Regions from separate parts of the Homo sapiens genome. Here region 1 is linked to region 2. The links come from fine-mapping of genetic effects on gene expression. A gene starts in region 2. The other region holds a variant in brackets. All regions are shown on one strand. Distances are between the middles of the regions.

Region 1 (9,236 bases), 37 kb before region 2:
ACCTCTCAGCCGCAACCACTTTCCCAAACATCCCCCGCCCTCCCCCCCCCAGGCCCTGCTCTTAGCTGAGCTGAGGCTGAGAAGAGCCTGAGTGACAGCAGAATGGGGCAGGAAGGAGGGGGCTCCCCAGCTGGCTGGCCTTGACCACCCTTGCACCCCTCTGGACTCGGTTGCTCCATCTGCAAAATGGAGGGGCCGGAACGCAGGAGGCCCCTGTAGACAGGTCATCCCTCTCTAGCCTGGATTGGCTGAGCCGGCTGCCGGTTAACCTGTGAGGGCTGGGGGTGGGACGAAAGGACCCAGGGTTTCTGGGTTCTTCCGCACTCCTCTACCTCGGGCCCAGCTCAGAGAGGCTTGGGCCCCTGGCCCAAGCTCACACAGCAGACGAGGAGGCGCAGGCTGGACGGGAGAGGGGCTCTGCCAAAGGCCTGCCAGCTGGAGGTTCCATACTGGGTGACCCAAGGTGACCAGGGGCAGAGTTGGCCCCACCTCCGAGCTGCATTATTTATAAAACCCAGAGCAAGGAGCTGAGCAACAGCTGCGGTGCTGCCCCTCCAGGGGACACAGGCCTCGGTGGAACGGAGTAGACACGGTGTCTCCTCAGGGAAGGCCCCTAGGGTCCCGGGCTCCCTCCAGGGCTGGCTGGGGCAGGGGCTGAGGTGGGGAAGGGGGAGCAGCTCCGTCCCTCCCCTCCCCCTCCACTCCTCCAGGCAGGCAGCGATAGGATTACTTCTGCATGACTGCCCGCTCCACAGGGTTCCAGAGACCCTCCTGCCTGCAGCAATCTTTAAAATTCCTCCAGCCCAACCTCTCTCCCTCTCTCCCTGCAGTGAATGCCCCAGAGTCTACCGCAGTGTGCCCACTGCTGCCGCCACCACTACCCCCAGGCAGGCTGGGACCCAGGTCCCTGGTGTCCATGGGCAAAGATGGACCCATTCTCAGGGCGTAGCCGTGTGTCCCTCAGAACCCTAAGACCCAGGCCCTGGCCCATTCCCTCTGGCCCTTGGTGCTGCCCCAGTCCCACAGCCACGGCTCCAGCTGGGGTCAGGCATGCCAGCTGTGCCAGGGCGGATGGGCACATATGTGCAAACACCCCCGGTGGGTCTTGGCATGCCTGCCCATGGGCTTTGCTGCCAGAACCTGGCTGCCCCACCTCTGCTCTGAACCCCTCCCTATCTCACCAATCCCTGCTATCCCCCCAGGGTGGGCAGACAGCTGGGCTAAGCCAGTGCCTGCGGCTCCCCAGGGCACAAGAGGCAGGCAGGAGATCGATTCACTGAATTTTTTAAGGCCCTAATGGAGCCTGCATCCCAGGACTTGCTGGGCTGGGACACAGGCGATGTCTTGGGGACCCTTCCCACAGCACTGCAGTTGCTTCTTCTTTAGGGTCTTGGGGATCAGTGGAGCCCTTCTGTGAGCCTTCCCTCAGCAAGAGAGGAGGCACGAGGGACCTCTAGGAAAGAGAAGGGATTTGGGGGCTGTGAGCAATACCCAGAGCCCCCCTATCTCCCCAGTCCTAATGCAGGCAGAAGCAGCTCAGCCTCTAAATCACTCCCCTCATGCTGCCCTCTGAGGCGGATTCTGTGCATCTGTAATTAGGGGGTGGAACAGATGGTGGAGATTCCGTTTAAAATCATGCATCTAGTAAAGTAACCTTCACTGTCGGAACTGACTCCCAGGGAGACCAAGCCCCGCAGCCTGGATTTGGGGGTGGGGGGTAGTATGTCAATCCAGCACCTTCCCCATCCCTCTCCCTGAAGCCCCAGGCCCCATGTCCCTCTCAGGTGAGCCAAGGGGTTGGGGGAGGGAGGCAGTGATTTGGCAAGCACTTGAAAAAGTGTGGGCTGGGGGCAACTCCCCCTGTCCCTCTCTCCCACATACATGCCAGAGCCAGGGCAGGGCTGGGTACTGAGAGTTCCTGGCTGAAAGACCAGGATGACCAGGTGCCAAGGGGCTCTGCCCCCACCCCAAAGAGGCCCCAAACCTTTAAGCCCAGGCCAGGGTGCCCAGAGCACAGGGTCTTGGGTGGGGCAGCTTTGAACCAGATGTCCAGCCTCACTGTCCAGGAATGAAAGGCCTGGGGCGGTGAAGGGGTGGAGATGCCTCCCCAGGCAGAGGAGGCTCTGGGAAGAGCGGGAGGCCTGGGCAGCAGAGAGAGAGAGAGCGAGAGCACACAAGAGTGAGCAATGTGTGTGACAGGCTGAGGCTGTCTAGGGGAACAAGGTGGGGGAGAGGGTGTGCTGGAATGTGCCAACGGTGGGAGTGAGGGCTGCAGAAGGATTAGGCGGGGTATGTGACAGGGTGCCGTGGGGTGCAGGCGGAGCACAGAATGGGTGCAGGGTTGTGACTAGCTGAGGCTGTCTTTGTGTACAGGTGTGGTATCGGGGTGTTTGGAGAGGTGTAGGGGTGTCCCTGGGCCCTTAGGTGGCTGAGGAAAAGTACCGGAGCTGAGACTGTCTGGGAAGCGGTGGGGCCGGGCCATTAGGACTGCCTGTCGAGGAGGTGCCGGGATCCAGGAGGCAGTGTGCACAAGTTTCAGGAGGTATTAGAAGCTTCGGGGCCTGATCTGTTAGAGATATACTAGAACCGAAGCCATGTCTGTGTGTTTGAGGCAAATGTTGTGGCTACAGAGGGTGTTCTTGTTTGAGTGGGTGTTTGAAGCAGTGAGTGTATGTGTGTTGTAGGGGGAGGCTGTATGTTTGGAAAGGTATAGGGGATGATACCGGTGTTTGGGGAAGTGCTGAGCTATAGCTGGGAGAAACGTTGGGGGCTGTGGGCAGAGTGTGTGTGTCTGGGGAGGTGTCAGGGCTTTGAGGGTATGAGTCAGTGGGAAGGTAGCAGGGCTGTAGCTGGGTCCTGGGTGTATCTGGCAGTGTTGGGGTTGGATAGGGGGTTGATATGCTGAGGGTGTGATAGCTGTGTGTGTGTGTGTGTGTGATTGTGTGTGTGTTGGGGTGTTTAGGGATGTATTGGGGGGTCATAAAAATGTGGGTTTTGGTTAAGTACTAGGGCTGTGAACATGTGCCTGGAAAGGTGTTGTGGTTGGTGGAGGATGCACTGTGGTTTTGGGGAGGAGCTGGGGAGTGTCTCTGGAAAGGTTATTGGGATTTTAATTGGGTACCTGCAAGGGTCTGGGGAGGCGTTAGAGACCTGAGGTCCCTCCATACGTGGGAAGGGAAGAATGGGTCTCTGATATCAGAGATGTGCCACAGGCTATCGTCCGTGCATGCACAGGTATGAGGGCTGTAACCAGGTTCCTGGTGTCAGGGAGGTGTTGCAGGTTGTGGGTAAGCATGTGGTGGTTGTGTGTTTGGGGGTATGTGCATGTGAGGTAGCTGGATGTCGGGGGGTATCTGTATGTAGAGTGTGTGTGTGGAAGTGTGTGGGCTGGGTGTTGTAGGTGGAGCAGTTGTGTTTTAGAGGTGTTAGAGCTGTGAGTGTGTATGTGGGGCAGTTGTCTATTTAGAAGGTGTTGGGAGCTGTAACTGAGTCCCTGGACCCCAGAGAGGTGATGGGGCTGCAGGGTTTGTGTGTGTTAGGGGGGATGCCCCTCTGGGAGAATGAAGGGCAGCATCCTGGCCTTTGCTCCGGGGCCTAACTGGGGGCTACCCGCTAGAACCCCTATGGTATGGGGTGCCTGTGCGGGGGTGTTGAGACAGGCAGTCCATCTGTCTCAGCCTGTGCCCAGGCCCAAGGAGCAGAGCTGCCTCCTCGCTCCCTGGGGGGCAGCAGCGGATCCAAGCCCACCCATCTGCCTTCAGATGGTCGAGGCAGGAGCCTCCACAAAGCTGCCTGGAGGGCAGCACTGCGTTTGAAGAGACACAGGCTGGGGGTGGGGGAACTGCACAGCAAACAGTCCTCACGGAGGCTCCTTTAAAAACCACTGACGCCAGAAGAGAGGAAGAGGGAGGACAGGGGCGGGTATGTCTGTCCTTGTGCATCTGTGTGGGTCAGTGCCCAACTTCCAGGCCGGGGGCCCCTTCCCACGTGCTTGTGCTGGATGTTCCTGTTCAGGTAGCACTCAGGCCTTGGAAAACACTGCTCCAATCCAGGCAACAGGCTCCCAGCCTCACACCTGAACTACACCCTCATATCTGCATAGTCCCTACACTCACACGCACTCATACACCTTCCCACATGCATGCCTGCCACTGCACGCTCACACATGCAGTTTGCCCCATGCCCTTAAACCTTCATATATGTACCCCCATCACACATACCCCACCCTGCAAAACCCACAGTTACACACACCCATCTTACACACACACCTATCACATAAACGTGCATCCACACATACATACCTGACAAGTCACTCTCACACACACACCCACACACTCCACACACCTTGGAGCTCCCTGTCACACCCGTACCCTATCTCACATACACCCAGTCTCTCTCACACTCCATGAGGACACTCGCCATCCCTTCTACCTGCACATGCAAGCACATGTTTATACACATATGCCTCACCACCTTTGAGACAGCTCCCCACTACCCAAGCCACTGGGCATTTCTCTGTGTCCAGGTCAGGCCCTGAAGCTTTCCAGAAGGGCTCTCACCGACTGAGAGGACCTTCTGCCTCCCCACCTTGCCAGCCGGGTTAGAGTATGGGGGTGGGGGGCAGGTGGCAGGGGGAGGTTCTGTGTGCTCTGGTGTGACTGCCACTGTATGTAGGAGGGTGTCCCATGACAGGGCCTGTGAGTCAACACCTGTACAGGGAAGGAAGCACAGGTGCGTGTTCACCAGCTATGTTCGTGAGATGCAGAATGAGTGTGAGGGTGGAGATTTACATGTCACAAATTTGTGTGTGTGTGTGTGTGTGACAGTGTGAGAGTGTGTGTGTGAGAGAGAGAGAGAGAGAGACGCAGGGCCTGTGTAGACAGGTGTGACCGTGGGGGCTGCGTTTATACGAGGGGCATCCCCCGGGTGAATGTGAGGGGGTGTTTCCCAAGACAAGAGAGGTGCACATGTGCATCTGGTGCAGGGGTCAGGGCTGCAGGCCTCTCAGCAACCCCCTCCCCCTATGAAAAGAGGAGCAGGGAGCAAGGGGCTCTGGGCGGCTTCTCTCTCTTGCTCTTTCTCCCTGACCTCTTTAGCAGCTGGAAACTGAGCCGGGGGTGGAAGGAATGGAGACTTGGCTGGCCTGGGGGTTTGGGGAGGGAAGAGGGAGAAAACACCTTCCAGATTCTCATCAAATCCCTGTTTGTGGTTTGCAGCCTGCAGTCTTCTCCCTCCCTCTCCCTCCCTCTCTCTGTCTGTCTGGGTTTCCCCCTTTCTTTATCTCTTCCTGTCTCTCAGCCTCCCCATCTCTCTCCTTCTCCATCTCAGTCACTCTGTCTCCTTTCTTTTCTCTAAGTCTCTGTCTTCCATTTTTCTGCCTCCTCCTCTCTCTGCCAGCACCTCTGTCTGTCCGTCTCTCCCTGTCCCAGTCCATCTGTCCGTCTCTCTCCGTCTGTCTGTGTGTGGGTGTCTCTGTCCATCTGTTTCACCACCCATCTGTCTGGCTGTCTGTGTTAGTCCTTCCAAGGGTGCCCACTCGCTCCCCAAGGCACCCTCCCCCAGGTCAGCAAGGCCTCTCCTGGCTCAGGGGGTGGGGAGGGGGTGCAGAGCTGCAGCTTCTGGAAGCTTCAGT[G/A]GCAGCTGGGCTGAATTGGGAGTTCGGGGCCAGCCAGCTGCAGAAGCAGCCCCTCCCCTGGGCTCCCAGGCCAAGGACCCCAGAGCAGAAGAGGAGAGAAAACAGGGCCTCATTGCAGTTGGGTTTGTGTGTGTGGTGGAGGGGGCTGGAAGGGGGCTGGAGGGAGGCAGGGCCTCACTTTACTCTCACTTCACCATTGCCCCCGGAGCCAGGCCCTGCAGGAGAGGGATCCTTGATGCCCACCTTCCTCATCCCCTGGCCAATGGAAGAGATGCTGGGATCCAGGAGGGAGGGGCCAGGAGAGGCCAGGCCTTGGGCGAAGGAGGGGCTGGGAGCCAGGGCTTCCTGTCAGCTGGGCTGGAGGGGGGCTCCTTCCCTCCTCCTTTCCAGGCAGTCCCTGGGGACCCCTCCTGCTCTGGTCCCAGTTCCAGGCATGAGGGGTTGTTCTTGCCAACTGCACTGGGGCCATTCCCACCTCCATCTACCCATAGGGACGTGGGGGGATCACACCAGTGTCACCCCCACAACAGTGGAGGCTGGTTTTGGCCATGTAGTGACCCTGGCCCTGTCTAGGCACTGGCCATCCTGAATCTAGCACCTCACACACAAATATATACAGTGCATCCCAGTGCTCACCGCCTGCCCAAGCCCCCCAACACCAGCATCCACCGTCATGACATGAACGCAGAGACCAGCACCCTACCTTGCACTGGTGACAGCGCCCCCGTCACAAAGCCAGCAGCTTCAGACAGCATCCCTTAACATTCTCCCTGGCTACTCTGTCCCTGTCCCCCACTCCCTCTCCAATAGCTCACAGTCCAAATCCCACAATGGATGGGGAAACTGAGGCCCAAGAGGAAGGGATGGGAGGACACAGTCATCCCTCCTGAGACCCTGGGGTAGGATCATAAATGAGGAAAGAAGAAAGAGATGCTGCAGGGGCAGAATCAGGCTCCTTCCTGACCTACCATGGGTAAAGTCCATATTGGCTACACCCTCCACACAGCCCTACCACAGGGCCAGGGCCAGGGCCAGGGCCAGGGGCTGGCTCCCTCCCTCTCGAGCTCTCCTTGCCCCTGGTTGGGCCCCCTCCCTCTCCTCCCTTCTGAGCAGCCCTCCCTGCCCTCTCCCTCCCAGCTCTGGCTCTCTCATCCTCAGCTCTTGGAAGCCTGACTCACTGTTTCCCCTCCTCTCTCGCCTCCCTCCCTCTCTCTCCCGGCAGCAGCGGCGCCTCCCCCTCCCCTGGGGGGGCTCTGGCCACAAGGGTGCCTGCCTGCTTCTCTCCCCAGGCTCCGGCCCCCTCCACTCCCAGGAGGCCCCCTGCAGCTGTTCCAATTCTCTAACTACAGTGAGGTGGAGTGCAAACAGCCCAGGTCCCAGCCTGGTCTTGCCAAAGGTATCTGTGACCCTGAGCAAGTGGCTCCTCTCCCTAGACTTGGCTTTCTCTCGTCAAACAAGTGGGGGGCGTCCAACTGGATGATGCTCCTGGCACCTCTGGGACCCTAATGTTTCCCGCTTTTATAACCTGGGTGTCTTTTGGCACAGAGCACCTGACAACCTGTAGGGTGCAGTACCTGCCACAGGCCACGCCCCCCCGGGTCCCAAGAAAAGCTCAGCTCTGTTCCAGGCATTTGGGGAGGGCAGAAGGGAGATGCTACCCTGGGACCTGAAACATTTGTTGAAAACCCTGGAATCTGTCTCCCCATTCTCCCTCCTCCTGTGAGAGTCTCTCTCTCTCTCCCACCTGTCCTCCTCCCTCTTCCCAAACATCTGCTTGTCTCTCCTCCAAAAACAACCCCAGAATCTGATCTTGGGTGAGAGGACCTCAGGGCTGCCTCCTCTCTGGCTCCAGGGAGGGGAGTGGTATATTCCTAGGCCTTCTTGGTCCCCGGCCCCCACCTCCAGGGGCTGTAATTCCAGATTTTCTTGCCTGTTTTCTCTTTCACTCTCATCACTGGCTTTGGTCTCCATCTTTCTCTCTCTTCACCATGCATGTGGTTGTGGGTCGCTCCCCCGCCCCCCTCCCTGGGGGGGGCCCATCTGCAGGCATTAGCAACAATGTTACCCTTGCTTCCTCCCATAGTCCCCAGCTCCACTCCATCCTGGCTTCCGCCTCCCCACTCTGTCCCAAGAGACCCAGGGGACCCAGAGACAGAGCTGGGCTCCATCCCATAATAGTGAGTCTGCTTGACCTCACCAAGCCAGACCAGAAGGGCCTGGGCATCTGGTACACAGGCATGGCACCCCCTGGTCTTGGGTGGCTGGCATGAGACACAGAGCTCTGTGTTCTACAAACCAAAAAAAAAAAACAAAAAAAATTGAAATTGACCTGGGGGTGGGACAGAAGAGGGGAAGGGGGAAATGAGGGAGATCAGGTTTGCCTGGAGGAAGCCCCTGTCCAATGGGGAACAGAAGCATAGAGGTGGGAGTGGTTCAAAGTCAGTGCTCCAGGCTGATTGGAGAACAACAATGTCCCTCTGGGGCTCTGCCAGTCCAGAACAGCTCCCCCTACCCAAATGTCTTCTGCCAGGGGCAGTCTGCCCCTCAAGCCTCCAGCACAACCACAGCAATCAGGTGGAGACCCCATCTTTTAACCTTTTGAATCCAAGTCCAACTTCCCTACTGTACACCTCCACTTAGCTCAGCAGGGGGTTCCAGAAGCCTCCCAGCCCAGATCTAAGCCCATGCAGTGGGGGTAACAAAGTCCCCCAGCTCCCAAACCCCTTCCCCAAAGGCCCCATCAAGGGCTGGGGAGCAATGCAAAATAACCCCAGAACCCTCACGCATTGAAACTGAGAAGCTATGCTGTCCCACAGCGCCTGAGGGTGGTAGGGGCTCCCTGCCCCCACGACCCTGTTCCAGACCCCCCAGCCCAGCAACAATAATAAACAGCAAGCTCTTTTTCTTTATGACACCAAATTTCTCCAAGCCCAACAGCTCCTTCCATCACTACCTCAGCCATAGATCACATTAAAAACTCACAGAGGGCAACTTAAACACATCACATTTGTTTCTCTCTATATTATTTCAAAAGTAACGGCATTAAAAATGGATTTTACTACAGAAAATAAATATCGGCACGTGGGCTGGGAGCCCAGGCGGAGGAGAGCGCCCACCAGGGGAACGTTCCTGAGGGCTTGGGCACAGTTAGGCACTGACCAGACTAGAAAGGCCAGACTACACCTTGGGCTTGTGGGTGATTCCTGGGGAGGGGGCAATGCCTGCCCACCTGGGCATCTGCCCCAAAGCCAGATGAAGAAGGACAACTCACTGGTTTGGGCTGGTAGCCACTGGTCCCCCAAAGCTTATGCCCTTACTGGTCTTTGCAACCCCTGAAGAGTGGGAGCTCTGGGGCCAGAAGTTCACCAGTCTCTGGGGATTACTCCAACTATTGACACAGCAGGAGAAAAAAATGAATTCAACTTACTATCCAGTTTGATTTTCCATTACTATAAAAATAAATATACATCTGCTCAAAGGAGGGAGATGGCAAGCAGCATGCACATGCCACCTGGGGGGTCCCCCCACAACCCAGCCTTCCTACCCCCCCACCCCAGGTTGGGGGACAGACTGGTAATCTTTCACTTACAGCCCCAGCTCACAC
Region 2 (9,236 bases):
GCTTGTCCATCCCATGGTCCATGGGCCATATGCAGCCCAGGACAGCTTTGAATGTGGCCCAACACATATTAGTAAACTTTCTGAAAACATTATGAGATTTTTTTTGTGATTTTTTTTGAGACGGGGTCTCACTCTGTTGCCCAGGCTGGAGTAAAGTGGCACAATCTTGGCTCACTGCAACCTCCGCCTCCTGGGTTCAAGTGATTCTTCTGCCTCAGCCTCCTGAGTAGCTGGGACTACAGGCGCGCTGCCAACACGCCTGGCTAATTTTTTGTATTTTGAGTAGAGACGGGGTTTCACCGTGTTAGCCCGGATGGTCTCGATCTCCTGACCTCGTGATCTGCCCGCCTCGGCCTCCCAAAGTGCTGGGATTACAGGCATGAGCCACTGCACCCGGCCTTTTTTGCAATTTTTTAAAGCTCATCAGCTATCATTAGTGTTAGTGTATTTTATGTGTGGCTCAAGACAATTTTTCTTCTTCCAATGCGGCCCAGGGAAGCCAAAAGATTGGACACCCCTGCAATAACGTGTGTCTCTTAAGGAGCACCTAGTGTTCTCAGCCCTGTGCCTCATGCTCTAAATCCTTGATACAGCAGGCAGGGCGCAGGTGGGGGGAGGGAGGGGCGCAGGAGAGAGAGAGAGAGAGCCATATCTGCCCAGATTTTCTCAGGCAGTCGCTGAATCTGAAGAAGCCAGGTCTCTCTTTTCTCAGCACTGAACTTCGCTGCCTGCTAATACCAGAAAGGGGGCAGCTCAGAGAGTAGCCACAGCATCATTCTGGGCACTTGGTTCTGTTTATAAATATGTCTCTTGAACATCTGGTTTACAGGAGTCGCCTCCGAGATCCCCATCAGGGTCAAAATCAGGTTACAAGTATCAAACTGAGGTCCAACCCTGGACCGCAGTGCTCCTCACTTCAACATCTGCCCTGTGGCCCTCCCCAGCTCCATTCTTCAGTAGCTCTATGACCTTGGATCTTTGACATAAGCCTCTGAGCCTTAGTTGTTGCATCTGCACCTTCTGAGTAGTTGTTGTGAGGGCTTCATGACATGTGGCTCTTGCCCGATGTGCAGTGGCCAAGTGTGACCAATAACCAAAACCAGAATGGCCCCCAGGGACCATTTACCACTCCACCTTCTCTTTTGCATAGGGGGAAGTTACTTTCCCAGGATCACACAGCCAGACAAGGGATTCAAAGTCAGGACTATTAATTCAAGTCCAGAGTTCTGTTCCCTCCCCCACTGCTGTGTTCTCCAAAGCCTGAGCAGGAGATCATGCTGTTCCTAACTAGTGAATGTCATACTTCCGGTCGAACACACCACCCCTGTCATATGGCAGCTGGTCACCCAGCAGGGAGGGACCCTGCCTCCCACTCACCCCTACTGCTGGACATAGGAACCCCAGGTCCACCCATCCTTTTTCGAGGCCCACACTTCCCAAAGCTATGCCAGTTCTTTGATGTAGACACAGGATGTCCTGCCCCCGCAACCCTCACCAAGTATCTGTGGGATCTAGAGGCAGATTTAGGCTCAAATTCTAGCCTGCCTGACAACTAGCTTAAGGCATTGGGCAAGTCAGTTCATCTCCCTGAGCGGCAGCATCTTTGCCTATAAAATAAGAATACAAATGTCCACCTCCTGGGGTTGCTTCTCAGCATCAAATGGGGTCACATCACTGAAAGCATCAGACATACAGTAAGTGCCCAGTGAACTTTCACTTCCCTCCTTTCCCTTGAGGAAGGTCCTCCGTGGCAGTGACGGTGTGGGACCAGAGGGTACAGAACTGGGCAGGGCTGAGAAGAAAGAGAAGTTCCCAGGGTGAGGTGAGAGGGCTGAGCTGGCCCAGCCGCCTGGGGGATTTCATCAAAAGGGAACCGGGACTTTGGGCAGGGGCAGGAAACCACCATCCTGCAAGAGTTCCGGCTTCTCCTCCAGGCTCTGGGCTGGCCGGGGGCAGGCCAGGGCTGGAGGGTCAGGGAGCAAGGCTGAGGTCTGCAGGTGACTCCCATCCCACTGTGCCGCATCTCTCACTAGGCCCTATCCCTCAGACCGGGCGGGCTTCCATCCCTCACCCTCAGTCCTCTCACCGAGACCCTCCACCTGGCTGAATGCCAGTGCCTTTGCTGAGGCCCCCACTGCTCATTAACTCCCTTTCTTTCTTTCTTTGTTCTTCTTCTTCTTCTTCTTCTTTTTTTTTTTTTTGAAACAGTGTCTCATTCTGTCGCCAAGGCTGGAATGCGATGGTTCGATCTCGGCTCACTGCAACCTCTGCCTCCCGGGTTCAAGCAATTCTCCTGCCTCAGCCTCCTGAGTAGCTGGGATTACAGGCGTCTGCCACCATGCCCAGCTAAATTTTTGTATTTTTAGTAGAGATGGGGTTTAGTCATGTTGGCCAGGCTGTTCTTGAACTTCTGACCTCAGGTGATCCACCCACCTCGGCCTCCTAAAGTGCTGGGATTACAGGCGTGAGCCACCGTGCCCTGCCTTCATTAACCCCCTTTCATCTCACACCATCCTTTCTTGAGGCCTCGAAACTGCCTCCTGAAGAAGACATACCCACCCAACCCTGTCTGACTCCACCACCACCGTGGTGAGGCCAGGTGTGTGCAGGATCGGGGGTGGCCTTTACCCTCCATGTGGTCCCGAGGCCATTAGCAGTTTTTTCCACTTCTTGTGGGTAAAAGTGGTTTTCCACCTGTTGCTGAAAACCACCCACCAGCCTCTAAAACACAGCTCTTTAGATGCCATCTGGCCTGGGACTCAGGATTTTCAGGAGATGGAAGCCATGGCGGCGGGGGGCGGGGGTCCAGGGGCAGCCAAGGGATGGGAGTCTAGATTTCACAGTGTGGCCAGACAGGAAGCCCCCTCCCTGGTCCCTCAGGGGAGTGGGGCGGTGAGGGGGACATCCTGCCTTTTCCCACCTTAGGTCAGCCCAGTCTGCTCTGCGTGGGAAGAGCCCTGGCCCCTACTTCCCCAGCTCTGGGGTTCCCTACCCAGCCTCCTGAGGTCTGGCCACTTCCTTTGCCACATCAGCCCCAGGTGGCTGCAGAGATCACCCAAACATCCACTCATATGCTCAAGGGTTCATGCTCATTCACTCAGAGCCCAAAACATACAAACACTCACACCCTCACTGGAGGAGGGTGTGAGAGCACCTACTCACTGGAACAGGAAGTAGTCATGAAGCCCCTAAACCCCACACCCTCCTCCCCGGAGGGTACATGAAACTTGGTAGGGATGAGGTAAGGATTCAGGCCTCAGCTCAGGCTACATCAGAGACGAGATGTCCTGGAATTCTGGTCCCTACTGTTGGCCCTGCAGGTTGCCAACTCCCAAACCTCCATCTTCCCATCTGTGAAGTGGGAACAGGGTCCTGCTCTCCCATCATCACCACAGTCGGAAGGATGCCAAGGACATCAGGGCCCCTGAGAGTACACACCCGAGGGGCGGCCAACTGGATGCAGCACCAGAGAGGGTGTGAGACAGATTTTAACTCTGCTGACCTCCCCAGTATGGGCTCTCATCAGAGCCATAAACTATTTAGACGCCAACTGTGTGCTGGTCCCTGGAGGCCCTGTCAGTGAGAGCCGGGCAGTCTGGTCCCCCTCCATGCTTTTTGTTGTTGTTGTTGTTTACAGACAAAATCTCACTCTCTCATCCAGGAGCTCTCACTGCAGCCTTGAACTCGTGGGCTCCAGCGATCCTCCGGCCTCAGCCTCTGGAGTAGCTGGGACTACAGCAGGTGCCACCACTTCCAGCCTTCTGGCTAACTATATTTTTTTGTAGAGACAGGACGGGGGTCTCCCTGTGCTGCCCAGGCTGGCCTCCTCTGCATGTTTTTGAGAAGGTGAAGGGGAGGCTCGCTGAGTCAGGGATAGCCCTTAACCCTTCAGGACACTCAGCAAAAACTGCTTTCTGCACCTGATTCTCGTGGGGGAAGAGTGGACACAAGGATCATTTCTCACCATAGTTCAGATGAGGAAAGTGAGGCCCAGAGAAGCCCTGTAACTTGCCCACAGTCACACAGCAATTAAGGGCCCAGTCTTGCTAAGAACCCAGGTCTCTCAAACAGCAGATCCTCCACCCCAGGATCCCTGAACACAGCGGCATCGCCTCCTACCTCGGTCGGGAAGCCCACCCCCCACCCACCAGACCGAGGATTCCAAAAGGGGGCGAAGGCGGAGAGCAAAGGGGGCTGCGCCCACCCGGAGCCCCGCGGCGGCCCAGCGCGGCCCGCCCTCTCGTTGCCTTGGAGGCAGCCCCTGCGGGCACTCGCGGTCAAAGGCAGGATTTCCGTCGGGGCGGCAGCAATTCCCGGATCCAGCGGGGAGCGCGGGCCGAGACCGCCGCGGGCGCGGAGGGGGCGCCCGGAGAGGCCTGTCCCTGCCGAGGGCGGGGACTTCCCCAGGAAGCGGGGACCCACGCCTCGCGCGCCCGGCAGGAGTCCCCTGCAGCCCGGAACCTACCGCAAGGGCGGGCCGAGAGGGTCGCGGGGCCGCGGTCGCGGCCGCTAACGTTACCCTGCGGGCTGTGGGCTTCACCCCGACTTCGGCCGGCTCGGAAGAGGGGAACTTCCTGGACCCGCAATTGCACCCCAGGTTCTCCGTCCTCCAGAAGTCGTTCTCCTCAACCCCCTTCCCGCCAGCTCCCTCTCCTGTTCCCTCCAGCACCCCCACCCATTTCCCCTCTCCTGGACCCATCAGACCCGTCGGCTTCTCCCCAAAGTCCCACTCTCACGATCCCTTCAGTTTCTCCCCCAGACCGTCCTGGGGATTCCCCTTAATCCTTCTCCCCCACCTCAGCCCCCTTCCTAAACTCTTATCAGTCCCCTCCATTTTACCCACTAGACCTTTTTGGGGGTCCCTTTGGTCGGCTTCCCCCGTGCTCCCCTCCGCCCTCTCCTCCAGGTTTATCAGCCTTGCTTTTCAGGTCGCCCGTTTTCCTCCTTAGGCCTTTTCGGGCTGGGGTCCCTTTGGCTGTCACCTTGCTCATGTGTCCCCCGACCCCCAGGTTCAGGCTTCTCTTCCCGTGTACCCCCAGTCCTCTCTCCAGAGCCTCGAGGGGGAGGGCACTGCTTGACCTGCCCAGTCCCCACCCGACGCTGTCGCTTACCTGGAGCCCAATTCTGCCCGGCCCCGGGGTGAGCCAGCCGGGGCTCCAGCAGCCGCGAGTGCCGGCGTGCGGGGAGAACTGGGGTGCTGCCCGCCTCTGACCGCCGCCCCTGCTGGGCAGGGAGGAGGAAGCCGCCTCGGACTTCTCTTATTGCAGTCACGGCCGGCGGGCGGTGATGGTGGCAGGGAGACAGTCACGCCCTAGCCCCAAGCCAGCTCCCCGCAGCGAGGAGGCGCCCCCAGATCCTAGGCCCACCCGCCCCCACCTTCCTCCTCCCTGGTTTACGGGAGGTCGGCTCTGTCACCCTCCAGACCTGAGTCCCCAGCCCGGCCTTCCCAAAAGCCCCCTCCAAAAGCGCAGTTTCAGCACCCCCGAAGCACCTGCTCTTTTAGGATCATTGAATTGGAGGTTAAGAGGGGCTTTTCTCCATCACTGAGGACCAGATCGGGACTGGCCTTACTCGAGTTCTCACAGCCAGTTGACTTCAGACTGCTGTCACCAGAGCCACTGGACATGGATCACATGGACCCTGTCAGCACGCCTTCCCTTCCTCAGGGGCTGAGCACTGGGGACACAGGGCTGTTAAGGGTGGTGAGCAGCAGAAGACCCTTCCCTTAGGAAACTGCCTTTCAGAGGAGTGGGAAGGGTGTCAGCCTCCCCCAGGCACCCAAGTTTTAGAAAAACTGAGTAACTGGCTGGGGGCAGTGGCTCAGCCTGTAATCCCAGCACTTTGGGAGGTTGGGTGGGAGGATTGCTTGAGCCCAGGAATTCCAGACCAGCCTAGGCAGCATAGGGAGACACCATCTCTACCAAAAAAAATTTTTCTTAAGTTAGCTCGGTGTGGTGGTGTGCACCTGTGGTCCCAGCTACTGCAGAGGCAGAGGTGGAAGGATCCCTCGAGTCAGGCAGGTCGAGGCTGCAGTGAGCTGTGATTGAGCTACTGCACTCTACCTTGGGTGACAGAGCAAGACCCTGCCTTAAAAAAAAAAAACACAAAAAAAGAATGTGGGTTTTGTTGCAGAAAATGACTTTTTTTAAAAAAAAGAAAGAAAAGGCCGGGTGCAGCGGCTCACGCCTGTAATCCCAGCACTTTGGGAGGCCGAGGCGGGTGGATCACGATGTTAGGAGATCAAGACCGTCCTGGCTAACACAGTGAAAGCCCATCTCTACTAAAAATCAAAAAATTAGCCGGGCGTGGTGGCGGGCGCCTGTAGTCTCAGCTACTCAGGAGGCTGAGGCAGGAGAATGGTGTGAACCCGGGAGGCGGAGCTTGCAGTGAGCCGAGATGGCGCCACTGCACTCCAGCCTGGGCGACAGAGCGAGACTCCGTCTCAAGAAAAAAAAAAAAAAAAAAAAAAAGGAAGAAAAACTGAGTATCTTAGAACATGTGGAAAAAGATTTTTAAAAACAAAAAGAGAAACGGTAGCATCCTCTATCAGTTCCAGTCTCTCTGTCTGATAGGGATCCCTGACCCCTCCTCAATCTGGGGTTCAGTCCCCACTCCCACCACTGTTACTTCAGCCTTAAAGCAAGAACCCGGAATATCCCTCCTGTCCAGGAGAGGAAGAGGTGTGGTGGGGAGGGCTGTTTGGTGGAGAAGGATGTGTCTGTTGGGATGTGGTGAGAGGCAGGGAGAGTGTGCGTAAACACAGAAGTGTGTGTGTGTGTGTGTGTGTGTGAGAGAGAGAGAGAGAGAGAAAGCAATGACATGATGACTTTGCTTTTGGAATCAACAACTAGGCCATGGTGTGCAGGCAAGTGTGTTTCTTTGTATGGGCAGGGGCATGTGGGGATGTGTGTGTGCATGCGTACACATGCTCAAGTGTGGCCCAATGTGCCTGGGGTAACAGAGTGGTGGGATGGAGATAAGAATGCTTTTCTCTTAGGAAATGGGAGGAGGGATGAGGAGGAAGACAGAGGAGCCAGTGGCAGTGCAGGGTCTCTGGAAGAGTGGCTTCACCCTAGCCGGGCAGCATCACCTCCGCCATCAAATGCTCCCTGCCTGGCCATCGGCCCACATGTTCAATTAGCAAACAAGCAAACGTTTATAATTGTGTCTTAGGTGCCAGCCTTAGGGAACACAGAGATGAGAGACTGGTCCCTGCTCTTGGGGGATCCCCCCAATCTATCATGCTCGCTCTGTCATCCTTCAAGGTCTGACTCACAAGCATCTGCTCTAGAGGCCTTCCCTGATTGCTGCCTCTACCCACTCCACACCCCCAGCAGAACCTCAGCATCTTCTGCCTGGGGCACCACTGGTTCCTGGGGGATGGGTGTGTGGGATATGTTTTCCTCAAGGGCAGGGGTCTGGCTCTTGTAGATGCCTCCAGTACCCACACAAGGCCCAGCACACAGTAGCAGGCTTTCTGTGTATAGGAACACGTGAATCAACCAAAGGACAAAGGAATTAACAGATGAACAAAGGAAAGCCCAGTGAAAAACTAAATAATGGAAGGTAAGAAAGAATGAATGAAGAAATTCAAGAATTGATGACTGAATAAGCAAATGAATGGAAGAACAAAATGACAACATTGCTTCTCAGGCCGGGCTCGGTGGCTGACGCCTGTAATCCCATTGTTTTGGGAGGCTGAGGCGGGCGAATCACTTGAGGTCAGGAGATCGAGACCAGCCTGGCCAATTTGGTGAAGCCCCGCCTCTACTAAAAATACCAAAATTAGCTGGGTGTGGTGCCGGTGCCTGTAATCCCAGCTACTCAGGAGGCTGAGGCAGGAGAATCGTTTGAACCCAGGAGGCGGAGGTTGCAGTGAGCGGAGATCACGGCACTGGACTTCAGCCTGGGCGACAAAGCAAGACTCCGTCTCAAAAAAAAAAATTGCTTCTACTTTTTAAAATATGTGTTGGGCCACATTAGTCCCTTGCTTAAAATCTCCCAGTGCCTTACCTTTCATTTTGCTTGGAAAAATAAAAATACAATACATACGATACCATAATAATAAAGAATAATAAAATCCAGCAGCTTTGTCTTGTCCTCTGAGGCCCTGTGTGCTTGGCCCCTGCCTCCTCTCCAGTCCCAGCTTTAGCCATCTTTCCCTTTACCCACATTTGGATCTTTTTCAGTTCCTAGAATACACTGAATTTTTGTCTCACAGTCTTTTTACATGGTGTTCCCTCTTCCTAGGATGCTCTTCTTCTTGCTCTTCACAGTACTGCTTCCTTTTTATTCTTCAATTGAAGTGCCGTCTCCTCAGGGAAGCCTCCCCTGACTGCCACATCTAAGAAGGTCTCCTTATTCTCGGTCTCAGCATCCAGTTTGTCTCCTCTATGGCTATCACAATCTGGAATTATATATTTCTGTGTTCATTGTTTTTTGTCTCTGGACCTCTCTAAACCAGATTAGGGCTCTGACCCAATCTGAGGTCAGGAGACAGCTGGCACTTCTTAGGACGAGCAAAGTGGATTCTATGCCCTCATTCATCCTTTCAGAATAACCTTGATTAGGAACACAGACTCTGGGCCCAGGCTGCCTGGTTTGCAGACCAACTCTGACCTTGGACAAGTTATTTCACCTTTTTTTTTTTTTTTTTTTTTTAGACAGAGTCTTGCTCTGTCTCCCAGGCTGGAGTGCAGTGATGTGATCTTGGCTCACTGTAACTCCCAGGTTCAAGCGATTCTCCTGCCTCAGCCTCTTGAGTGTCTGGGATTACAGGCGTGAGCCACCACACCCAGCTAATTTTTGTATTTTTAGTAGAGACAGGGTTTCGCTCTGTTGGCCAGGCTGGTCTCAAACTCCTGACCTCAACTGATCCACCTGCCTTGGCCTCCCAAAGTGCTGGGATTATAGGTGTGGGCCACCGCGCCCTGCCCAAGTTATTTCACCTTTCTGTACCTCAGTTTCCTCATATGTAAAATGGAAATTTAGTAGACCTCACCTCACAGAAGTCTTGAGAGAAATCAGTGAGCTGTTAGAGGAGTGTTTGGCACATAGTAAATACCACATAAGTGTTCACTATCATTCATTCATTCATTCATTCATTCAATTAAACCTCAACTCTCTGACCACAGTTTCCTATCCTTTCAGCCCATGTATTCACAAGCTCCTTGAAAACAATTCTAAGTCAGGTATGGTGGCTCACACCTGTAATCCCAGAACTTTGGGAGGCTGAG

What was found.
Region 1: its variant is fine-mapped to the expression of FGR in whole blood (TOPMed, PIP 0.99).

The regions. Positions count from the first base shown.
Region 1 is chr1:27,592,534-27,601,769 of GRCh38, forward strand. All of the region lies in intron 3 of AHDC1 (AT-hook DNA binding motif containing 1), which reads right to left. Among named protein-coding and RNA genes, the nearest start is that of AHDC1, 7.0 kb to the right of the region's middle. RefSeq lists enhancers at 503-1,076, 1,077-1,650, 2,519-2,648, 3,263-3,788, 3,789-4,314 and 4 more. The variant G/A (reference allele first, on the strand shown) is at 5,633.
Region 2 is chr1:27,629,954-27,639,189 of GRCh38, forward strand. FGR (FGR proto-oncogene, Src family tyrosine kinase) reads right to left here and starts at 5,232. Exons shown (of 13, transcript NM_005248.3): 1 at 5,112-5,232. RefSeq lists enhancers at 1,949-2,449, 1,958-2,007, 2,138-2,277, 2,678-2,727, 7,356-7,415 and a silencer at 4,308-4,357.